Regions from separate parts of the Homo sapiens genome. Here region 2 is linked to region 1. A link means that fine-mapping ties the variant in region 1 to the expression of a gene that starts in the linked region. Tissue or cell type: tibial nerve. Region 1 holds a variant in brackets; the other region holds the start of a gene. All regions are shown on one strand. Distances are between the middles of the regions. Region 1 has its middle 44 kb from the start of PALMD. Region 2 holds the start of PALMD (palmdelphin).

Region 1 (13,026 bases):
ATAATTAGAGAAAACTATTCTAAAATTCATATGGAAATAAAAGAGATCCTGGATAGCCAAGGCAATCCTAAGCAAAAAGAGCAAAACTAGAGCCATCACACTACCCAACCTCAAACTATACTACAAAGCTAGAGTAATGAAAACAGCATAGTACTGGTACAAAAACAGACATATAGATCAATGGAACACCTATGACCATCTGATCTTTGGCAAGGCTGACAAAAACAAGCGGGGGAAAGGACTCCTTAGTCGATAATTGGTGCTGGGATAACTGGCTAGCCATACACAGAAGAATGAAACTAGTCCCTTACCTTTCACCATATACAAAAATTAACTCAAGATAAAGATTTAAATGTCAGACCTCAAATGATAAGAATCCTAGAAGAAAACCTAGGAAATACCCTTCTTGACATCAGTCTTGGCAAAGAATTTTTAGCTAAGTCACCAAAAGCAATTGCAACAAAAGCAAAAATCGACAAGTGGGACCTAACTAAACTAAAGAGCTTTTACACAGCAAAAGAAAGTATCAACAGCATAAACAGACAACCTACAGAATGGGAGAACATATCTGAAAACTATGCATTTGACAGAAGTCTAATATCCAGAATCTATAAGGAACTTAAACCAATCAACAATCAAAAACAAATAACCCTATTAAAAAATGGGCAAAGAACACGAACAGACACTTCTCAAAAGAAGAGATTCATGTCGTCAACAAGCACATGAAAAAAAATACTCATCATCATTAATCATCAGGGAAATGCAAATCAAAATCATGAGATACCATCTCACACTAGTCAGAATGGCTATTATTAAAAAGTCAAAAAACAACAGATACTGGCAAAGCTGCAGAGAAAAGGAAATGCTTTAACTCTGTTGGTGGAAATGTCAATTAGTTCAGCCACTGTGGAAAGCAGTTTGGAGATTTCTTACAAACTTAAAACAGAGCTACAATTTAACCCAGCAATCCCATTACTTGGTCTATACCCAAAAGAAAATAGATCATATACCAAAAAGACACATATACTTGTATGTTCATTGCCTCACCATTCACAATAGCAAAGATAATGGAATCAACTTAGATGCCCATCAGTGGTTGATTGGATAAAGAAAATAAGGTACATATATACCATGGAATACTATACAGCCATAAAAAAGAATGAAATCATGTCCTTTGCATCACTATGGATGCAGCTGGAGGGCATAATCCTAAGTGAACTAATGCAGGAACAGAAAACCAAATACCTTATGTTCTCACTTAAAAGTGGGAGCTAAATGTTGAGCACACATTGACATAAACATGAGAACAAAAGACGCTAAAGACTACTAGAAGGGGAAGAGAGGGAGGGAGCATGGGTTGAAAACTACCTAGTGGGTACTGTGCTCACTACCTGTCTGCAATATACACATGTAACAAACCAACACACATACCCCATATGCAAAATAGAATTTGAATTTCTTAAAAAAAGTAATAAATGACATGAAAAATTGGAAATAAATAAACAATGGAAACTTCATACAAAAAAACCCCAAATACATACACAGAAGGAGCAAACCAAAACCAAATAGGAAATATTTTGATGTGTATATATTATACATATGATAATATACATACATTATCTGGCTCTGCCACAGTGAAAATCTAGAAGCAGTCACACCCAGGAGAGACAAGCACTCCAGTGAACAGATCTTGGTTTATAAATATGATTTTCCAATTTAATGAACCAGGGGTCCTTGGATAAATGGCTGGTTCTAGAACTGGGAAAAAAAATTCAAGATGGTCCTGGAGCATCTTGTAGTACCAAAAAGTAAGGATGTGCTAAAAGAAATTTAAGAATGGGAGCATATCAATACAATGCAGTAGTCAAACTGAAGGAATGCCCAATGTCCAAAGCTGGACTCATCTGAGCAACAAAATAAGTAGCATAATTTAGAAATGTAATATGAAATAGAAAATAAATTTATGGATAAATCCATACATATATACGAATACATATGTATGAATATGTATGAATACATATGTATGTATGAATATACATGAATATATATGTACATACATATGAATATACATGAATATATATGTACATACATATGAATATACATGAATATATATGTATGAATGTATCCATACATTCATTTTCTATTTCATATATATGAATGTATCTATAAATTTATGTATATCTATTTATATATATATCAGTATAAGAATAGATAAATATGATTGAATAATAAATAGGGGAGAAGAGACAAATCTTCCTGACAGAAAAATTTCAAATAATTTATGTAGATGAAACTTCCTTTCCCCTTTTTGAATGTTGTTAGACTTACAGCTTTGCTTTCAAAGAATAGAGTAGGAATTGGGAAAAATGGTGACTTTACAGTGGAGAAACCCAGCAAACTATCTTAACCGTGTGACCAAGGTTGACATCACCAGTGATGTTATATGCATATCATGTTCCCCTAATATGTGTAATGAGGACACTTCACTTCTGTGGCATTCTTTCCCAAAACACATAATCCCAGTCTAGTGATGAGAAAAGCATTATCATACAAAATCAATTCTAAGGACACTCTACAAAATCCATAATCAATACTCTAAAAACTCTCAAGGTGGTGAAAAATAAGGACGCTCTGAGAAACTGTCACAGACCAGAGGACATTAAAGTGACAGTGACATGATAACTAAACACATGTGGCTCCCTGGATTGGGTACTGGAATAGAAAAAGAATGCTACTGGGAAAATTAATTCAAGTCCAAGAAATGTCTGGAGTTTACCTTGTAGCAATGTACTAATGTTGACTTTTGACAAATGTACCATGGAAAAAGTATGATGGTAACATTAGGAAAAACTAAAACTGGGTAAAGAGTATATAAGAACTCTCTGTTACTATCTTCACAACTTTTCTGTAAACCTAAAAATATTTCAAAAGTAAAAAGTTTATTTTTAAAACAGCCCTGATGTTAGAATCTTCATTAATTACTTAGTGAATTCATTCAACACATAGCAACGGAAAACTTGCTGTCCCTAGTCACTGCTATAATAATGGTTATTAGCAAGTCAGATGCCATCCCTATCTTTCCAGAGCTTACAGTTTACTGGTAGATAAAGATAACAGGGATGTTCAAAATTATTTGATAAGTGCTTTGAGAAAGTGCCAGAGGTTTTAAAAATATTTTTCTCCTACATTTAAATTAACAAATCTGGCATGTTAAATAGATCTTGGAGCATAGTAAACATATTAGTCCTCAAATAATACTTCTCCTGAATATTTTCCATATCAGATAATCCTTAAACTCTGAACAATTTGCCAGGCATTGTTTTAGATTTTTTATTAGAGAAATTTGAGAATATTCTTTAGTTTAGTTCATTATACTTTGCTCAGTGATATGGTTTGGCTCTGTGTCCCCACCCAAATCTCACCTTAAATTGCGATAATCCCCATGTGTCATGGGAGTGACCTGGTGGGAGGTAATTGAATTATGGGGGCGGATTTTTTCTTGTGCTGTTCTCATGATAGTGAACAAGTCTCACCAGACCTGATGGTTCTATATCCCCTGCACATGCCCTCTTGCTTGCCACCACGTAAGATGTGCCTTTGCTTCTCCTTTATCTTCTGCCACAATTGTGAGGCCTCCCCAGCCATGTAGAACTGTGAGTCCATTAAAACTCTTTACTTATAAATTACTCAGTCTTGGGTATGTCTTTATTAGCACTGTGAGAACAGACTAGTACACTCAGCAAGGAATTATTTTCTTACAAAGTACAGAACTGTTTCCCTTTTCATGTAAAAAATGAAAAGTTAAGGCCGGGCGCGGTTGCTCACGCCTGTAATCCCAGCACTTTGGGAGGCTGAGGCGGGCAGATCATGAGGTCAGGAGATCGAGACCATCCTGGCTAACACGGTGAAACCCCGTTTCTACTAAAAATACAAAAAAAATTAGCTGGGCGTAGTGGCGGGCACCTGTAGTCCCAGCTACTCAGGAGGCTGAGGCAGGAGAATGGCGAGAACCCGGGAGGCGGAGCTTGCCGTGAGCCGAGATTTCGCCACTGCACTCCAGCCTGGGCGACTGAGCAAGACTCTGTCTCAAAAAAAAAAAAAGAAAAGTTAAACTAGATAATTCTTAAAATATCTTTCAATTTTAAACGTCATTGAGCTTTGTCAATTATGTCGTATTTTCTTGGCTGTTTATTAGATCAGTAGGAAGGTTTACTTATTGATCACGTAAAAACAAACATCATATTTTTCTTTCATCATCAAGATTCCTATTTCTTCAGTTTATTTCAGGTAGAAAAGTGTATTCCAAAGAAGGAAGATATTCCCATAGTGAAAAAGGAAAATACATATATTCCCTGAGGCAGGCAATACTTTTCAAAAGAATGAGAAGTCTTTTTACCATCATTAAAAGTCTGGGACCCAAAATGCAGACCACTAGAATCACAAATTCTGCACTTGCCAAGCCTAGTCAGTTTTCCTTAGCTCAAAAACCTCAGGAATGGGCATCTTAAAAGGAAATACTTTTTGTGGATTTGCAAAGTCTCACTGCAAAGAAATTCACCTCAGTTTGAAAGATCTTGTGGGATTAAAAGTCAAGATTCATTTGGGAATGCTGGCTGGTAGACATTTCATGTCTCTCTTTTGCTGAGAAGTAATCTCACAAAGAATTTATAGTCTATGACTGCATATAAAGGTGGCTTCTTTGAGGGGCCCACATTTGTATGTACTTTGAGAGGAGAGGATGGGAGCTGAATATAAAACACTGTGGCTGATTTCAACATCTGCTCCTATAGTTACAGAGAACCAGAGGCTGGACTCTAAAACACGAATGGAAGGTCACAAGCCAGAAGTTTCTGAGAATGTGTTGGGGAAGGAGTGGGTTGGGAAAATAGCTGTATTTCCTCTAAAGAAAAAAAGATATCTCTTTGAAGTCTGGGTATTTGGTAAATTTAAAAAAAAAAAGAATAAAAGACAATAGAAAAGGTATCACTAATGGGGTAGAAGGAACAAAACACTAAAATTGAAACCAAAACCAAATCACCCAAACCAAATAAAATTCCTTTCAGTGGAAGCACACTTGTGTAATACCACACTTTTAAAAATGACCTCTCTTCTGGATTATTTCATTAGCCTCCTATTTTACCTTTCTGCCACCAATTTCTCCCACCTTCAGTTTATTCTGCAAACTACTTTCTGAATGGTCTTTCTAAGACATTTTAGTGACAATGTAACCATAGCCTTCATGATCAAAAACTTTCAATGGCTCCTCATTGTCGCATGAAGAAAATCCAGATATTTCAGTTTTGATTTTCAAGTCTTTAGATGATTAGCCAAATCCATCATCCGTAAAATGAAATCAATATATAGAAATTTATAGGTTATCTCAGCAGTGTAGGTCAGTTACGTAACTAAATAATTTTTAAATGGTTAAAAATAGTGGGCTGGGCGTGGTGGCTCATGCCTGTAATCCTACCATTTTGGGAGGCCGAGGCAGGTGGATCATCTAGGTCAGGAGTTCGAGACCAGCCTGGCCAACATGGCTAAACCTCATCTCTACTAAAAGTACCAAAAAAAAAAAAAAAATAGCCAGGCGTGGTGGCACACACCTGTAATCCCAGCTACTTGGGAGGCTGAGGAAGGAAAATTGCTTGAACCCAGGAGGTGGAGGTTGCAGTGAGCAGAGATTGTGCCACTGCACTCCAGCCTATGTGAAGGGAACAAGACTCCATCTCAAAAAAAGAAAAAAAATAGTGTTTTCCTTTATATCTATCTATCTGTCTATCTAATCCATCAATTATCTATTTTATACCAGTACTAATTAGTACCTGGGGTGGATATAAATGTGGGGTATGAATTGTCCCATTTCTAATGTGATACTGATTTACCTATGCAAGTGGTTTTGATTTTAGTTACCTTGACTAAGACACGCTAAGTAAATAAATTGAATATCCAAAAATAAACCATGCTTTTACTATTTCTTAGGCCTTAAATCAATCTTGGCCATATTAACAAGAATGTTTTTGGTGTCTGCTATATATTTTCAGGAGCTTTTGTAAATACTTGGTCTAATTTAATCTCATAATCTTCAAAAGTCTGTTGAGCAAACCCTGAAAACATCCACTTCCAGTCTGGTTAATTAGAAAACAATTAGGTTCTAACAAGGCTTTTGCTTCCTTACTCTGTTTACCAGCACAGTTTCAACATCCTTCCATTGATATGAAATGTGCAGAGACATAATTTTTTTCTTTTTCTTTTTAATCTTGATTCTGGAAGCCCTGGTAGAATAGTTAAGGAAATTCTTAACAGCAAACAGGGGAAGTCTTTTATTTTCTTTGGGTTTTGATGGTACACAAATTAACTTGTTTCCTCTACTGTGATGGGAATTCAGAAAAGGGAACCTATTGGAAATGTGAACATTCCTATTCTTCCTGACTCTTAAATTTCATTAGAAAACTTTACATCACATAACTTTTACTAAGAGGAGACTGGAGGCAGTGTTTACCAAGAACGTTTGTTAATGTGGAGCTAAAAAACAACATAGAATCACTAGCCACTTGGATAATGAACACTGCAAACATCATTGTTTATAGAAATGGTGTAATGCTAGGATAGAATTTAAGTTCTAGCTCAGGTTGCCATTGAAAGAAGAGTACAAATATTTGCCGAGCACCTACTATGTGTCAGGCATTGAGTAAGGCTTTTTTCATATTTTTACATTTTTTAAATTTAAAATTTTTATTTTAAAAAGATAGAGATAGGGTCTTGCATGTTGCTCAGGCTGGTCTCAAATTCCTGGCCTCAAGCAATCCTCCCACCTTGGCCTCCCAAGTGCTGGGATCACAGGCGTGAACCACTGCACCTGGCCTTTTTTTTTTTTTTTCATATTTCTTCTCATTTAATTCTCAGTGCAACCGTGTGGCTGGACATTTTTTCAATCTAAATTATTAGAGATAAGGAAATTGAGAGTTAGGGAACTTTAGTAACATGTCAAAGGTCGCACATGTGTTAATTGCAGGGCTTAGTTTAGAAACCACTTTAGTTTGATGTGAAACTAGAAACATTTCCACTATAGCACACTATCTTCATGCATGTTTTTACACCCATCAGAGTCCAGTTTCCTACTAACCTTGACCTGTTTTGCAAGGATGAATGGGCTAATGAATTACTAATTGTAAAATATGCTTATAATTTTAAAGAACATGTAACTATTGAAAGAAAAATCATGACATTTTATAGTTAACTTCTCAGTTTCTTTTCTTTATATAGTCCCAGGATAATATATGAAACTATCTGTGTTCTCTCTTTCATAGCATAAATTAATGGAGAGCAAAGGCCTTTCTTTGCAAACATTTTCTAACACAGTTAACCCATGCTTCCCTGCTGCTAACTTCTCTCAAACGTTTAGATTCATGGGGACATAAAGGCCAAACTGCTGTCTTATTAAATTCTTCTTTTCATAAGAATATGCAAGATGCAAATGAGCAAAATGTTAAAGCTCTATAAAGAGCATCTCTGGATTTTATAGCCCTGCTTCCGAAGAGTGTGTCTATGGGATATCAAGTGAAGAAATAGGAGCATGCATAATTGCATATGTAATTGGGCTGCAATTTTGCAGTGTATAATACAAAATACATATACATTTATAGATGAAAGACCTGAAATAAATATGCCAAAATGTGAGCCATGACCACCTGTAGGTGAAGATCTATAGGGCAATTGCATTTCGTTTTTCAAATGTTTTTATGCATTTTAAAAATAAAAATATGTTTCTTCTATTACCAGAAGAATGCAATACATTTCATCCATATTTTAAAAAGACACATTGTTTTGAAAGCAGTTCTGGTTTCGTGTGAGGGTGAGAATATCCTCAAATGGAAACAATTTTGTTTGCTAGGGAATTCAGCTTTAAAACAGGAGCAAGGCATTTGTCTCTTTGATGCCATGGCAACCCCTGGGAAAACGCAGAGTCCAACAATGGGATAAAAATGTGCCTCAAGAGTGGGTAAGAAGGAGGCAACCTTGGACTTCTTTTTCCTCCACTTTCCCTTGAACAGAAGGTTGCATTGTGTTTTTCCAGCTGACTTTGCTTTCCAGCTAGGCTGCTGTGAGAGGAAAGAGCAAACAATAAGAAGAACCTTTTTCTCATGGAGTTTTGGGCTCTCCGAAAAATTGTGCACTTTCTCAGCGGAGAAAAAGCTCAGTTTCTTTTCTCTGTCTTCCCCTCTCCTTGACATCTCCCAATTCAGTCATTTTTATTACAAGTTTCTCAATCCCCTTTACATTTTCCCCTCAGGATACGCCACTTGTCTTCTTCGGAGCTGTAGGGCTGGATTGATCTTTTCTCTATGGTCACTGTTTTCTTCTATGGTCTTTTCTCTATGGTCACTCTTTCTTGATAGAAAGACTCCTG[C/T]AGTCTTTTTCAGATCTCAATCCTTAATGCATCTCTGTTGGTCTCCAATGATTTGGCTGTCTGAGACTCTTTTTTTTTTTTTAAGATTTTTTTAACCTAATTTTATTCCTTAGGTAAATTGAACTCCCCCAAGCCACTGAAGATTGCTAAGGGTCTTCATTTTGGCAATATAGATCCAAATATTGTGATAACAGAGGTTACCAAAGGACTTTGTCTCCATTATATAGGTAAGTAATGATGATGCCAAGCTTTTTCTGTGGTCTGTGCCATGTTTCCTTCTAACATGACAGCAGCATCAATACAGCAAGAATAGTTTACCTTGGTGCTGGGTTTTACATTAAGATCCTGTGTGTTTGGACTTAAAAACTTTAGTCCACTTAGAAGCTACCAGCAACCTGAGCAAGAGGCCCTGTAGTTTTACGCCTCAAACCAGCGTAAGCACTGCTTTTCAACTAATACAAAGAAAAGGAATTGGGGAGGGAGGTCTTTCGAGTAACCATGGAAGTGACTTTAAAGAATTGCAGGTTGTCATTTTGGCAACCAGAGGTGCAGTCTTCAGAGTGGAGGACTCTGTGTGGCAGAGCCAGGCCTTGACCCAGTGTGACCCCCTGATATCGGGAACCACAAGAGACTTGTGCAGCTGCCTGGCCTCCAACCGGCCTGGGAGGCTGGCCATTCCAGGAAACTAGCAGTGATGGTATCATTCCTAGGAGCATGATTCACCCAAGAAGAATGAAAACTTTAGAGCCATGAAGGCTGACTGTGGAGGATGGAAGGCTCATCTCATTCATCTTTCTTTCCTGAGCACCCATCAGTAAATATTGCCTTAAGTGAGATGTGCAAATTCCAGCTGCTGCTCAGAACTGATGGTTGTATGGCCTGTAGAAAATGTCTTCATTTCTTTAATAATTTTTTGCAGCCTACATAAATTTTCTTTTTTCCCGGATTGGCCCTTGTGCAAAAAAAACATTGCTTCCCACAGTTATAAGCCATTATAAATGATGTGTACTACTTCCTTAATTTCCCATCATTTGGAGTCTAGTGAGGAGACACAGATTAGTAGATAAGGTCAAATTCAACTCAATAAAAGTTGGGGGTCACTTCAGTCCTGAGTCAGGTACCAGCCTGGCCCAGCGGAGCTTAGTATGAAAGTACTTTATGAGGTTGAACATTTGTATGGTATTGTATAGCATGTTTAAAAAGCCTATCACATAGATGATCTCATTTGACTTTCACTGTAAGTAAAACCAAGGTATCAGTACTGGTATCAGTGATGAACAGACTCATATGGGTTCAGGAGCTCTCTCATGATGTCCCTCTGCCAGCTGGACAGGGTCCAGGGGCCTCAGAAAAACCATATTCTTCAGTTTATGTGGGATATTGCACATTTCTAGGACTGTGAGTGTTGATGAGAGGGTAGGGGTGTGTGTACTTGGGAAGGAAACGCATAATTCAGGTGTTCCTGAACAAATTGTGATCTAGATGGAGTCCAGCCTTTTTGAATCTGGCTACAATGCTAGTGAACTGTCCCAGGTTAAAGGAATTTGGATCAACCCCTGGTATCAATTTGGCACCAGGTTTGATATATAGTAGAGGGAGCTGTTTAACAAGCCATGTTCTTCATCCTGTTGATAAGGGAGAAACAGGAGAATATGAAGTCATGTAAGGGAGTGTGAGTTGTCCAAAGCTGAAACAATTTCATTTGCTGAAGTGATCTGAGGATTAGCATGTCTTTCTATAATACACAAATATATTTAGCACAGTGCTTGGCACTTAGTAGGTACTCAATACATGTTAATAAGGTATTATGGTAATAAATAATAGATTATGCATGGTCCTGTTATGGTTTTTTAAAGTTTTTTCCTTAGTCTTGAGTTCTGATTCCTATATTGCTTTTGGATGCCAGGTTATTCTATGTGCTTATTTGGTTCTTGATGTACTAGTTATGCAATAAAATCTGTTGAAGGAATAAATGAAAGAAGGAAGGCTTGCAGTGACACTTTGTATTTACTTCTAAGGCAATGTTGACATTCTCTATTCCAGAAGAACTAAAAATGATTCACATTCATTGGTGTCAAAATTTCCACATATTTATAATTTCCATTATATTAGGTTGGTGCAGGTGTAATTGTGGTTTTTGCCAATATTAAATATAATAGTGTTAATCAATTAATTTAATATTAAAATGTTAAAATAATCAGTATTTTTTTCTTCTCTTCTTTTTTTCCTTCTTGATAGACTTTCTTGTGCAGTCCTTAAAAAGTAGGACAATTCTACTTTTTAAATTGGCACTTTTGAAAGTTATTTCATTGAGTATTTACGTATTAGTAGACTGCTTGGTTCAACTTCTTACAGTTGACGTAAATTTTGGCCCAGAACTCATGTGTGAAAAAAATTAATTTTGTTTATTTTCTGTCTGATGATAAAAATTTTAAGTGATATTTCCACCAGGAGTTGGAAAACTTAATCTCTATCAGTTAGTATTTTACTCCTTCTAATTCTTTTTTTATTTTATTTTATTTTATTATTATTATACTTTAAGTTTTAGGGTACATGTGCACAATGTGCAGGTTAGTTACATATGTATACATGTGCCATGCTGGTGCGCTGCACCCATTAACTCGTCATTTAGCATTAGGTATATCTCCTAATGCTATCCCTCCCCCCTCCCCCCACCCCACAACAGTCCCCAGAGTGTGATGTTCCCCTTCCTGTGTCCATGTGTTCTCATTGTTCAATTCCCACCTATAAGTGAGAACATGCGGTGTTTGGTTTTTTTGGTCTCCTTCTAATTCTTGATTTGAAATCTAAATTTGGGGGATATTTTGGAGGCAAGAGGTCAAGTGCAGTGGAGTGAATTCCTGGTCTGGACATGCGGGCATCTGCCAGGAATCCTTAGGCCTGTCTGCTTCCTGACCATCGGTCCACACAACACAGATTGCTCTGACATCTTCCCATCCTGAATCTGATGCTTTTATGTGGCCAGCTCCCTTCATTACTTGGATGCACCTTCTGGGTACAAAGGCAACATTTAGCTCTTCTTACACTTCTTTGGGACACAGAGAATTCTGCCAGTTCCTTTTGCTTAAGCACTCCACAGAACTATCTCTTCTCCACTATTACTTTACTAAGTTGGTGACAGAAGCATTTTAGCTCTTGATACCTCTGCAGGATATCCCTCCTCCAGAGTGTGAAGATACTCTTTGCTCTTGAATCTACCAAACCAATCTGGGTTTCTGTGAATTCCACCATCACAGGGGACTCAACTCAGGGAGGGAAGAGAACAGTTCTTCTTCTGAAGGACATGCCATTGCCACTGCCTCCTCTCCAGCTCTTCCTTCCCAACTAATCTGGCTATGAAGATTTATCTCATCTGTGGTTTCAGGTGGAGGAAGAGGGTGATGTTCTGGACAGGGATGTCTGGAATTATGCTGAATTCTTCAAAAACTTCTGTGATGCCTTGAGTTCCAAAGAGTCTCAGGTTGCAACTTCAAGGCCAAGATTTTGATTCTCAGAGCTTTACAGTTGTCAAATGCTGACAACTCTTTAAGGTTCACTAGGTTCCATTGGGTCAGCCAATGTTATTTTTTACCAAGCACTTATTATGCGCCAAGTAAAAGGAGAAATAGGACAGAGCTAAACTAAAAGACCCAAAGTCTTTCATAATTGCATAGAGGTGGGTATTCAACTTAATAATTATGTACTGATATGGTTTGGCTGTGTGCCCACCCAAATCTCATCTTCAGTTGTAGCTCCCATAATTCCCATGTGCTGTGGGAGGGACTCAGTGGGAGATAATTGCATCACTGGGATGGTTTCTCCCATACTGTTCTCATGGTAGTGAATAAGTCTCACGAGATCTGATGGTTTTACAAGGGGAAATCCTTTTTGCTTGGCTCTCATTCTCTTTTTGCCAGCTGCCATGTAAGACATCCCTTTGTTCTTCTTTCATCTTCTGCCATGATTGTGAGGCCTCCCCAGCTATGTGGAACTCTGAGTCAATTAAATCTTTTTCCTTTATAAATTACCCAGTCTTGGGTATGTCTTTATATACAGCATGCAAATGGACTAATACACATATTGAGCATTTTCTATTTATCAAGAACATGGCCGGGCATGATGGCTCATGCCTGTAATCCCACCACTTTGGGAGGCCAAGGTGAGCTTGAACTTGAGTTCAAGCATTTGAGACCAGGCGTCCTCATGCCCACCTGGTCCCTGGTCATTAGTCCACACAACACAGATTGCTGTGCCATCTTCCCCTCCTGAATCTGAAGCCTTTTATGAAGCCAGCTTCCTGGTGAAACCCATGCAAAAATTTGATTCTACAAAAAATACAAAAATTAGCTGGGTGTGGACTACATCTGTAGTCCCAGCTACTCGGGAGGCTGAGGTGGGAGGATTGCTTGATCCTGGGAGATCAAGACTGCCGTGAACTGTGACCGCTCTACTGCCCTCCAGCCTGGGCAACAGATAAAGCCTCTGTCTCAAAAAAAAAAAAAAAAAAAAAAAAAAAAAAAAAAAAAAAAAAAAAGAAGGTACTGACAGTGTATCAGTGAACAAGACAAATACTTAGACAAAAATGTGGTTAAAAGCTTGAGCTCTGGAGTCAGATGGCT
Region 2 (13,026 bases), 43 kb before region 1:
ATAAAAATTTGTCATGATGCTGTGGTCAGAAAATCTGATGAGCAGAGGAATAGATTCAAGTTCCGACATTTGACTAATTCCTTAGCTTTTCTTGGCCTAGGCTTTCTGCCATAAAATGGGAATGATAACATATGCTTTTGAAAATACTCATAGGACTACTTGGACAAATGAGATAAAATGGATGTGAAAGTTTTATTTTTCATAGCCTAAATGCTATGTAAGAATAGGCACTGTTATTATTGTTAGAAATCTCACAATTCTTTTTCTTAGGAGATGTCCATTTTATTCCAGAGTTGTTAGCGTAATTGATTAGGAATAGCTGTTGTAGCCCACTTTGCTATGTTACATCATCCTGTGTCAATCACTGATACATTTAATAGATTGAAAACTTGATGCTTAGGACAGAAGCTAGTTTTGAGTTCCATTCAGAACTCCTGAGGATAACCTAGCTCTACCTCTTAAGTGGCTTGACTGAATCCTCTCAGTCCCTGGGATTTTATGTAAAAACTTTAAGTATAGATCTCATTCAAACTGCTTTGATGATGTTTTAGGAAAATGTGCATGCCACAGGGTTCTGGGTAAGGGAACTTCTTAAGGTGGTAAATTTTCATGGAGTCTCTTCCCAAAATGACATTACTATCATTTAAATAAATTAAAATATTCTTATTTCTTTTTAAGAGAGGGTAGGTAGTTAGAGACTGCAGATTAAAAAGTGGAAGTCCTATTGCAGTTTTAGAATTGAACTGTGTTGCATTTGTTTATACTCTGGTTAGTCTTAGATGCTTATTCTCTAATTTGTTTTAATCACAGTTTTCTAAAGAAGCAGCTTTTCCTTTCAACCATCCAGTAATGTTCAGAAAGTTCATGGGGATCTTTGTCAGTAGAGGAGTTAGCAAAGTAGCATTATCATTTTGTTGCACAGTGGAAAAACCTTCCCCAGTTATCAAAAAGCAGTTTCCTTAATGAGCTATCAAAACTATTATACCTCATCACATGGTGTCCTTTATGGGTGGGCTGTTATGTTTGGCAAAGAAGTGTGGCGTACCACATTTGTTTGAAGAAACCTTTCCCTCTCTGGAAGAAACATGTAATCTTGGTACAGCACTGTGGAAAATTGTGCTGAGGTTTCATTGTTGAATATTCCAGAATGGGACTTTTTTATTTAGAAGACTGCTACATCTTCATGTACCATCTTCATGTGAATTTCTTTGGAAGCTCCTGACAAATTAGAAGTTGTTCCTCTAACTATGTCTTAATCATGAGGTATGTTGGTTAACAATGGGGCATTATGCATTCTTTGGCCACTAGTACTTTAAGAATTCCTTAGAGCTCTAAATAATACAATGATCCAAACACGTGTTAGGGTATGCCTTTGTTAAAGACACAGACTAGTTTACACTTGTTTTTACTCTCTTATTTGTTCAGATAGAACGAATAAGGAAAAATATGTATGGCCAGTCTGGAATACAGAAGCAGGGCTGACTTCTTGGGTTTGTGACCTGTGAAGTCACCCAGGTCATCATGCTCAGAAGGGCCTAGCACTTAGATCAAAGCTCTGTTGTCACCACCTTGACATTTTGAATATTTTTTGAACAAGGGCCACCACAATTCCCTTGTGTTTTGGGCCCCACAAATCACACAGCAGGTCTTGCTTTTGGGTCACTAACTGTCTTACTGACTGTTAGAAGAGCCCAGATATTGACAAAAAGGGAACAAGATGAGGTAGAGTGCCCAGAGACACTTGTAACAGGGAACATGTGCTAAAGAAATAACTAGAACCCATCCGTGCTCATGTTCTTGTTTTAATGTTGGTCTTTGTACTGTGGAGATTTCTGTTTTATGTAAAGAACTCCATGTCTCTTAAATTCCTATATTTACAAGTCAAGAAAAATTTATTTGGGTATTTGGGAGTGGAAAGCAGTAGGGAGTTGATCAGGGGAAATGTGAGAGCTTTTTTTTTTTTTTTTTTTTTTTTTTTTTTTTTTCATTATGAGCAGCTTTGGCCGGCAAAATCTGGCTCTGTTGCTCAAATTCCAGTGTCAGGACTTTATATGGCTCCTTTCCAAATGGAGGCAGTCCTAGGCAGGTGCTTGTACTTGTGATTATTTTTATTGTCTAACTTTTGACAGAACTCACCTCCTTCACATCTAGGCTCAAACGTCACCCTCTTTGTGAACCCCATCCTGACCACTCTATTTTAACTTACAATGCACTCCCATCCCCACTCCTCACATTCCAGACTCCCCTTATTTCACTTCTTTTCATTTAAATGCACAAGGCTTGGTGCATAGTAGGTGCCTAATAACCATTAATTGAATAAAGGCATGAGAGACTGTGTTGATAACACACATTCCTTACAGTTAAAGGTAAGCCTGGAGGAGAATAAAAATGTCAGCTTTCTTCTTACTCTCTTTTTCTCAGTTGAGTCTGTTCTCTGAAATTGGATTCTAGTTCTTAAACTTCCTCTGAGTTCATCCTTCAAATAGAACTGAGTCTATGATCGCAAGACAGTTTAAGATCTAATTTTCCAGTTTGAGCATATCCATATTTGTAATGGTATTTTCCAATGTCGCTGTAGGCATGGGGGTAAGAAAATGTATTAGCTGTGGAGGAGATGTTAAGAGTATACGGAATGTTACTCATCCTAAGGGAATCTTTGTGTTTCTGAGGAGAGACCCCTGGGCCTTTTCGTTGTTCTTCAGTGTGGGCCACGTTCACTTTCAGACAGTAACTCTGTAGGGATAACTCTGTCAGTGGTACGTTCAGTCCTTCATCTCACGCTTCTTCATCTCACTCTTCTCGAGAATGCTGGAGTCATTGGTATCCTCAGTTCCAGTATTGTTAAAGGTGAATTTCAAATTACTAGTCTATTTCAAAATACTATTGAATTCCAATTAGCTCACCTTTTGTAGAAAGATCAGCTATTTGTTCAAGTGTGTACTGACTTGAAAAGGGCCTCAAGAGACATTTTAAAGATCAAACATAATAGTTAATTAATTTTAAGCAGCCCTGTGTTTAAATTATAGTTGAAAACTGAACTTCTAGGCAAAGGGGTACTTTGACCATTAATTTAGTAAGGGAAGAGTTGGTGCATGGATAAAGTATTAAGGAAGAACATGAAAGTAATTGTGTAAAATAGAATCTATATTTGGTATACCCAAACTGAAGTATCTACCCTTGAACAATTGTTTCTGCATACTTTCATAATTTTGCTCTTATTCTCTTTAAATCTTTGAGAAGACATCTGACTAATCTAAAATTCAATTTACTGATCTGATATGAGAAATGAATGGCATCACGATAGTAATTTAGTTTTCAATTTGAGAGCCTAAGTGTCACATTTCAACTACTTAATGTGTTTAACCTTTTTTTTTTTTTTTTTGAGAAAAAGAAAAAGACTGGCACTTGGATCTTTGTTCTGTCAAATTCTAGGTATATACGTTTATTTTTTCAGTTCTTTGCAGTGAAAAATAATGACTTTTTAGGCACTTGAAACCAGGTAGAATAAATACAACTGTGAAGATTATTTTATTTTATAGCCAGCAATTGGAGAAACGAATTTTAATGTAAAAAGCAAATAGATCCTAGAGTGTAAAAGTTTTTTTTTTTTCCTCCAAAGTGAGGTCTATGTGTTGCTATGTCTGGGTGCATTGGGGAATTGCCTTCTGATTTCATTCTTGAAGTATACAAAAAATTATTTCAGTGTAGGTAAGTACTAGGAAAAAGCTAAAATGAGAAGATACTCTCTGAGTTTTAGTCTAGGTTGGAGATTCTGAGGCTTAAGCATTTCCAAAAATGAAATAATTCTTGCAAACTCTCTGCATACTCTGTGATTTTATTTTCCTAGGGGGAAAGAGACTAGCTGAGGTGGCTTCCTGGGCAAGGCAAGGGCGAGGGCGAGGAAAGCTGGCGTGTCCCAGGGCGTCCAAGAGGGAGGAGAGTGGATGTGTTGTTTCCATGGACACACCACTGCTCCACTTTTCCTCTAGGTGGTGACAAATGTGACTGGATTTAGCCTGGTGAGGTGTAGGCTGGTTTATGAGAAATTTGTTCCCATAAACTTTTTCCAGTTTTTTCCCTACAACCTTTATACAAGTATATTACTTCCAAGCTAGAATTACTTTGTGATCTTACTTGGGAGATTTGTTTAATCCTTTCTAATGGGATATATTTAGGCTGATGGAATAATCCAAAAATTTTTTTAATCATCAAAAAAGCATACATCTGCATATTCAGGAAGCTACTTACTCTCTTGATGGCTTTTAAGACATTATGAGGATTTTCTGTCTCTATTTGCGTTTGGAACCTTCAGTGACTAAGATTCCTAGCCTTAGAAATAACTGTATACAGCCATATCTTTGGAACATGTGTGGCTTTGGTAAGAGTTATAAGGTACACTGGAGGGAAAAAGGGCTTGAGCGAGGGTGTCCCCCAACTGAAAGAGGCAAATTCAGAACAAGGGTCTACTTGTCTATTTCAATTAGCTAATTAGGAGATATAAGCATTAGAAATAGTGGAGCCTGTGACCACACAACTCACGCAGTCTAATAAAGTAACCTTTAGACAACAGCTGTAATGTAAAAGGCCCATGCCAAAAACAACAGAGCAGAGCCGAGTTCCTGTCCCTTAAAGCAGGACAGCTGAGATGGTGGCTGAGTTTAATGACAAAAAAGGACAAAACAAAACAAACAATAATCCCGACCAAGGTTTTCTGAAGAGAGGAAAATGTAATAATTAGAAGCTAGACATTTAACAAAGCATTGTTTTATGGAAAAGTGCCAACCTTATCAATAGACTTCTGGTGTCTTACTATTGGCTAAGAAGACATTTCAATTTACTGAATGTTTCCTGGGTGAAACTAAGATATTGTATCAATTAGTAAAAAATCTAAATTAGGATTAGCATAATTAGTTATGCAATGAAAATTTTAAGAACAACAACAAAAAATCCCTGATCTAGCATCAGTTTTTAAAAAGTACTCATTTTTTTCCTATACCTAATGTCAGTGGCAGAAAATGCTGAGAAATTGGGATATTGCTTTCCAAAGATCTTTTTCTTCTTAAAACAATTACATCAAAAGTTATAGCTAGGGATAAATGATTGTGACACAGATTTCCAAGTTACTGCCAAATACAGGGTTTTATAAAATTAAAAAGAAAGCTGGATCATTTAAGAAAAGTAATTTATTTCTGGCTTTGACTTTTTCCCGGAACAAACATAAAAAATGTACGATTTTCCTTCTCGGTATTAACAAAATATTTTCCAAATCCACTGCATGCACTGCATTCCTTTATCAGGATCTTATTCAGTTTGTGACTCTGCTGGAAACTGATATCTTAGAATTAATCTGATACGTGCTTTTACCTAGTTTTCTCTTGTTTAATGCTTAAATTACGTATATTAACATTCATTTTAATTATTTTAGGCTTTCTGGAACATGCTACCACACTACAAATATAAAGTTTCAGGTCATTTTTAAAATTTCTTTTTCTCTCTTTAAAAAAAATTCTAACTTTTTGAGGCATTCATAGCTTAAAAAAGTTTCCAAGTTGGGGATCTGTTTTTTTATCTAATGCCAGTCAAATGGACATTTAAGGAAAAACTGCATTTCTAAGGTACACCACAGAGTGTGAAAGATAGTTAATCAGACTGCCTTAACAGCTTTTGATTGTTGTTTAAAATGCAGGCACAGCCTTTTTGAAAATCAAGAACGTTTGCCCTGCACTCAGGTTCTGAAGCCCCAGAGTTACAGAGGGTCATGAGGGTTAAGAGAGAAACAGAGACTCGTCCATGAAGGCTGACAGTTCTGTTTTTCCACTTGCGAGGGCTCAGCGACAGGGGCAGCCGGCCACGGTCTGCCTTCCTCTAAGTAACAACGTTAATGAGTTATAACTGTATGCAGACTTACTGTGATGGCCTGGAGTCTTCCCTTCACCAGCTCAGCTTCTTCCATTCTAGAAGTCAAGGACAGTCAGACGGGGAAGCAAGTCCAAAGCTACCATAAATCAAGGAGCCTCCTGGGGGAGAGGAGCGGGGGTGACAGAAGAGAAGCAGGGAGAAATCCGCTCTTTGCACCAGTGGAGAAATAGAGAAATTCCCGACTTGTCAGGAGCGTCTCCGAGCAGATGCACAGATCAGGCCAGACAGACACATGTAATGAGGGTGTGCTGGGGAGGCAGACGCTGAGGCTGCTGGCATGAGTTGACTGACAAGTTTGAACGGCAGCGGCACAAGCCCTTTTCCTTCAGGAGCTGCCAGCTCTTTGTTGTAATGTGCACAGTTAGCAAGGCACATTTTCTTATTAACTGTTCCTTACCCAATTCATTATTTTCCAGGAGTGGCACAGAGAGCCAACACACTGAGTGTTTAATCAGCCTCTGCTCTAGCAACACACAGCCATCCCCGGATGTGTTGGTCTGTGTGTGTTTGTACAAAGCTCGTTTACCTGCTTGCTAGCTCTAGGGGAGAGAGCCTTACCTTGACTGAGGCAGAAGTGCCAAGTCACTTGTTTGCCTTTCTTCCACTGATTGGATTTGATAATAATACAACAATCTATAGCTACTTTAAACTTCATGTAGTGGTAAATTTACATTGGTTCGTTCTCCCCCGTCTACACCCCACCCCCGACCCCCCTGCTCAGCACTTTGTTGCAAACTTTGGAATCTTTAGGTCATGGAGAAATCAAAGGTGTTAATGTGACTATATTAAGAAGTTGGCCCACCAAGGTATTTAGTGTGGCTTAAGCACCAAGTGCCACCTTTTGTTATTGCTTGACTTGGATTTCTATGGAATGCAGTTTTCTTTCTTGGACGCTGTTCAGAAATGACACTCTTGGCTTTCAGGAAGGTGCCCATTTTGACCTCACCGGTTACGCAAGAGAGAGGAGTGAGCCTTTGAAAATGTGATGAGACATTTGGTAACTGCCTGGAGCCCGGCACTGTGTGAATATTCGCCCATCCTTTAGAAAAAGGCAGGCAAGCCCAGTGAGACTCTTAGGTCAAAGCAGAGGCTGGGAAGCTGTACAATTGGCTCTGTCTGTTTTCTTTTCCCTACAGGTTCTTTAATTAAATTTTGCTGAAGTAAATCCTAATTACCAACTACCTTATTATTATGTGTTTGAATGCTATTAAGCGCTTTCATATCAACATTCAGCTGAAGAGGTTAAAAGGACAACCCAAACATTGAACATATGGTTTAATTTCCTTTGCAGTTTTGATATTAGTAATAATAATAGCTAATATTTGTTGCATTCTTTCTACAGGTAAATGCATACTTGCAAAGTGCTGAGAGATAAGTGCTATAATCCCTACTTTAAAAATGAGGGAACAGGCTCAGAGAGGTAATTTGCCATATAGCTAGTAAGTAGCAAAGCCAGGATTGGAACACCAGCTGCCTGACTTTATAAGTGGCATTCATCAAGGACTGCCCAAGGACACGGGGCAAGGAGAGGCACAGGCTGAAGGTTAAGTCAGTCTTTATGAGAAGTGGTTGGACCCCCAGCCTCCTTCTCTGTCTAGCTCCTAGAACACTACAGCTGGGTGTAACAGCCTAAGGCAGAACGGTGTGGGAATGTCCTCTGGAGAAACTTATTGGCCCTACTGAGGTTTCCCCACATTGTTGACTGGAGTTCCCCAACCACAGAGCCCTCATTCTGTCAGTCACTATAAGGTGAAACCCATGTTTTAAGAGTCTGAAATTATACTTGAGAGTAGTTTGTCCTTGCTCATACACCCTCAGAAGGGATACTTAGGGAGACCAGAGAATGGGAGGATTGTTTGGATGTGTGCCAAGTTTGATTACTGTTGGAAACATATTTAAGTGTAAAAAAAATCAAACCTTCAAGACTTCTGATTATGTTTATTTGTAGATCCTGGCTGAAATTAAAGACAAGAAAGCAGTAATGATAAATATCTCAGTCAGAATTGCATATTTGGTGCCTAGAACAAATGGGCAGTCATCCAATTATTAGTCTGGATCTTTTCCTAAAAACAATTTACCTCTCAAATCTCATTTCTGCTAGAGGAAAACCCAAGATTTTGCTAGTGTAGGGGAGGACAAGATTTAAAAAAAGAGGATGGGAATTTAGGAGGGAGCAGAGTTGCAACAACTGATTGGTATCATCATGTGAGTGGTAGGCAGAAAAGGCTGGAGCTGGGAAAATCTGGGGGACCTGAGTGGAATCCTGGAGCCAGAGCTCTGATGGTCTTGACAATCTCCCTTGGACTGCAATACAGATTAGGATGTTTCCACTCAACTTCGCCTCCCTTTCTCTTTCACCTGCCTCTTAGACATGTCCAGCTCCAGCCTTTTCTGCCTGTCCTCCCATGTTCTCTCATACAGTCATTTCTCCTAATAAAATTCTGTACATTTAACCCATCTTGGCATTTGTTTCTTATAGGATCCAGAATAACATCATCATTTCCACATCTACTGTATTTTGTTTACTTAATCTTTTATTGTCTACCAGAATGTAAGTTCCAGGAGAGGAGAAATTTTGTTCAGACACCTAACACAGTGCCTGACACATCAGAGGTTCTCAATAAATATGTGCAGAATGAATAACAAATGCTTAAAAAATTAACAAGTATTAGTATTGTCAACTAAATGAATGAATAAACACATGATGAGACACATCAGTTGTCAGCAACCAAAGTAGTCCAGTGTTTCTCAGGAATTTTAGCATTCTTGCCATGCTCAGTCACTGGCTGGGAGTAGCCCCTGGGAAGCATAGCCTTGAAGCAAACATAGGAATGGATTTCAGAGTGAAACAGCTTGGGACTCTTGGGTCAATTATGCTCCTGGAGTTCAATGTCTGAGAGGCACTTTCTCATCAGCCATAGTGATAAATGCTATGGAAAGAAAATAGAGCAGGGAGGAGAATAAAGATGGCTAAGGCAGGGAATGTTGCAATTTAGAATTGGGTCACTAAGGTAGCCTCAGTGAGAAGGCAATATTTGAGCAAGGTCTTGAAGAAGAGGTGAGAGTTCGTGATGAGGATATTTATGGGAAAAGCATATCAGGAAGGGCCTGTGCAAATGTCCTGTGGTGGGCCATACCTGCCATGTTTTATGAACAAGGCTAGTGTGGTTAGAGAGCTGGGACTAAGAGAGGGTTAACAGGAAATTTGGTTGGAAATGTAACAGGTCCCAATTCATGCAGGGTCCAGTAGGCCATTGTAAGGACTTTAGCTTTTAGTCTGTGTGGGATGAGAAGGCATTGAGGTGTTTTAAGCAGAGGAGTGTTTTGCAAGTGTGAAACAGGAAGACTAGATAGGATGTTATTACAGTAATCCAGATGAGAGATGATGGTGGCTTGTGTCAAGGTGGTAACAATGAGAGTGTTACCACCTTGGTTGTACCATGGTTGTACCATGGATAACTTTTGATTCTGTTGGTGGATTGGATATAGGGGTTTAAGAGAAAGAGAGGATTCATAATCACTCTTTGCCTGAGTGAATAGAAGTCGCCATCAATTGAGATAGTGAGGTTGATGAACTAGGTTTTTTTTTTTTTTTTCTTTTGAGGGAGAGGATGGATACCAAGTTTTGGAAAAGTCAATTGGTTCTCCACATGGAGATGTTGAGTAGGCAATTGGATATACGAATTTGGAGTTCAGGAAAGAAGTCTCAGGTGGATTTATAAAATTTATTGTAACTACGGAAGGATCACAAAACATCCAGAATTATAGTTCAAAAAGCAGTATATGTTAGCGAACTAGCTTCCATTAAATATTAACCTTATATTAATGACCAAATTCAGCCTTTGTAAAATAGATATATAATAGAGCACTATCTGCTGTCATTTATCTTATTGAACTACTTTTACCAAGTATTTTTGTTGTTTTCCAGCCAGTGTAAACGAGGATGGCAAGAGTTAAAAGTTACAGTCAATTAGTTGACATTATATTAGGAGGTAGGGATATAAGCGATTATGAGACAGTGCTCCTTCTTACAATGAATTTACTGTCTGGCTGGAGAGATAAGACGCGTGCTCAAAACAATTAGAAGACAAAAGAATAGTAAACCAACCGTTGTTGTATTCCGATGAAACAAAGTGCTAACTATTGCACAATTTGAGCCCAGAAAAGTATATCATAGTGAATGATAGTAGTGTGTGGGATTAGCAGTGAGTGCAACATGAATTGAAAATTGAGGTTAATGTGAGTTGCAGGAAAGCGACTGCAGGGAGAAAGTAGACTTTAGAAGCAGAGAAGCCATTTCTAAGCATGAGAGGGGGTGAAACAATGTGTTAGAGGTCCATAAGGGAGAGTGTCCTGTCTGGAGCAGAAAGGAGAAATTAGAGAGATTGATAGAGATATACATTTATACATAGAACTTGATGTTCAGGGAAAGTGGGAGAGAAAAGATCAGATTCATATTTTAGGGAAATAAAACTGCCAACTGTCTCAGAACATATAGAAGGAGGGAAAATTCAGGTAAAGAGATCCATCAGGAAGGGTGACTATGAAAGAGTCTGTAGAAAGAGCCTGTAGAAGGAAACTAAAAAATTGCTGATGTTCCACAAAAGGAAAGGTCCCCAGTGTTCTTCCTCACCTTCAGAAGGTCTGAACTCAGAGACCACAAACTGGATGAACATGAAGGACAAAGTAAGTAGAGGAGAAGTGTTTAAGGTGCTAATACAAATGTGTTAGAATCCAAGGGGGATGGCAATGGGAATGACCAATAAGGAAGAAATCTACAAGAAATTTCAATAAGAGTGTTCAACTGGAGAGAAGGATGAGAATTTGATAGGTTCCAAATGAAGTACAAAATAGGAGCTTGAATTGGAAATTTCAGATAGAAAATCACAAAGAAATGAAATCTAATGAAATAGTGGCAGGAGAAAATTGAAGGATGCCGAAGGCAGGATGTATATGTTGAAAACATCTCTAGAGCCTTTTTGAAACCAGATCCCGTGTTAAAAAACTGGATGCTCATTCTCCTTCTCACTCTTCTCTCTTTCTTTCTCTCTCTTTTTCTTCCCGTCTTTCTCTCTTTATAACTTCTCAGACTTCTGGAGGCCAGAAGTAGTGTCACGCTAAGAATACGGTGTTTATTTTTTATACGACATCTCTGAAGGAACCATTAGAAAAATCTTCACTTTCAGATTTACCATGTGCTAATGAGTGTGTTTCTATTTTCTTTTGTTTAATCCTTGACCCTTATTCTCTCACATCACTGGACAAGGTGAGTTTTTCATCGACCTTTTATTCTTTAGTAGACCATTGGAAGGGATTTAATTGCCATAGGCAAGTAACAAATAGTATGTGAGTAGGTTGACCACATAAATCAAATTAAAAAATCTGACCACATAAATCAAATAAAAATTATTTTGATTTGTTGGTACTATAACATACCCATTTCATTGTGAGGTAATTTGAGCTTTATGGTTTAAAGAGTAAATGAGGAAAAAATAGTAGGCTTCAAGACAATCTACAGTACAGATGCTTATCTTACTTGAACTCTCCATGACACTGGGCAGAGTTAATCTCTCCTTCTCTCTTCACTTGGCTTCCAGGACACCTCTCTTGATTTTATTTCCATGTCATTAGTCTCTCCCTCTCAGCCTTCTTTGCTGGTTCTTTCTCCTTTTCTCAATGTCTTAAAATTGCAGTGCACTAAAGCTGCAGTTGTTGGTGATCTTTTCTTTTCTATTCCTTTCCAGTCACTCTCAAGATCTCATTTACTCTCATTTTAATGCCATTTAGATGCTAAGATTCATGCATTTATTTATATCTCCAGCCTAGACTTCTCTTCTGTGCTGGAACTCCCTTACCTTAGAAATCTGTATGCCTCATTCTCTCACCTTCTTAGGTCTTTGCCGAGATGCTACCTTCTCAATGAGGCTACCTTGACTACACTATACAAAACCACAAATCCCTCTTTCTGAAACTACGAATCCTCCTCATCTCGCTCTATTTTTTTTTTTTTACCTTTGTCATGTTCTGTAATACTATATGACACACTTTTCTGGGGGGTTTATTGCCTGTCTTCTTTCACTAGAATGCAAACTCCATGCAGAGAAGGTCTATTTTTTATCTGTAGTCTAAGTACTTAGAGCAGACTGGTACATAGTGGACACAACAGATAATTGTTGAATGGTAATCATTGTGATCCATTTGATTGCACAATATGTGTCAAATGCCTTATAGGCCTACTTAATGGATTGGGGAAACTGACATTCAAAAAGATTAACTAATCTACCAATGGGTGATATATCTAATAAGCAGTAAAACCAGGATTTAAATCTAGAACTGTCTGGACAAAAGGTTCCATCTTTATTCACCATACTATCCTACCTCTATTTTTTCCTTAGTTGCAATGAGACACCACAGCACAAGGTTTAACCAGACGTAGAATACAATATTATGCATGATTCACAAATTCAATCATTTCGATGATTTGTGGAATTGATTTTTAAGACTGGAAACAGTTTACAACCACTTTTTGACATTTGCTTAAAGATTAGAATATAACATTTTGTAAGCAAACAGAGTCCACAATCACTTTTTCTTTGAAATTTGCTTGAAGCTTAGACTATAATTTTTTGTAAGCAAAGTATTCCAGAGATAGACCACTACAAAAAAAATTCTACTTGCATGTAATCAAATAGTGTGTGTGGTTAAGCATGCTGCTGTCTCTTTAAACAGCTATGCAGTGCTTTCCAGCTAAGTCTCCTAGAGGTCAAACAACTGCTCCATTTAGTGGAAAAGGATATTTAACTAAACCAATTGACTTTTTAGAGATAAAAGGTGCAGCTGTTTTCTGAACACAGCCTAAGTTATCTAATATCCTATCAAAAATAACCACAGATAAAAAATAACCTATTACCAAACCAAGCACACAGCAAAGTCTCCCCAAATACCCATCAAACAAATTGAAAATGTTCTATAATTTATTTCCCTTCTCATGTCCATGTAACATGAGAAACCAATATTTAACATATTTGAGATCTTACATCTTAGTTTCCTCTGCCTCAGTTTACAAATGGACATGAAAATAATCAGCATCATAGAAAGTATTAGCAT

The links. PIP is the estimated chance that this variant, and not a neighbour inherited with it, causes the effect.
Region 2: it holds the start of PALMD, and the variant in region 1 is fine-mapped to the expression of PALMD in tibial nerve (GTEx, PIP 0.94).

What each region holds. Positions count from the first base shown.
Region 1 is chr1:99,595,920-99,608,945 of GRCh38, reverse strand. No RefSeq gene overlaps it. Among named protein-coding and RNA genes, the nearest start is that of PALMD, 44 kb to the left of the region's middle. RefSeq lists a silencer at 7,859-8,153. The variant C/T (reference allele first, on the strand shown) is at 8,408.
Region 2 is chr1:99,639,245-99,652,270 of GRCh38, reverse strand. It overlaps PALMD (palmdelphin), which reads right to left and starts at 6,158. Exons shown (of 8, transcript NM_017734.5): 1 at 5,909-6,158. The coding sequence starts at 5,953.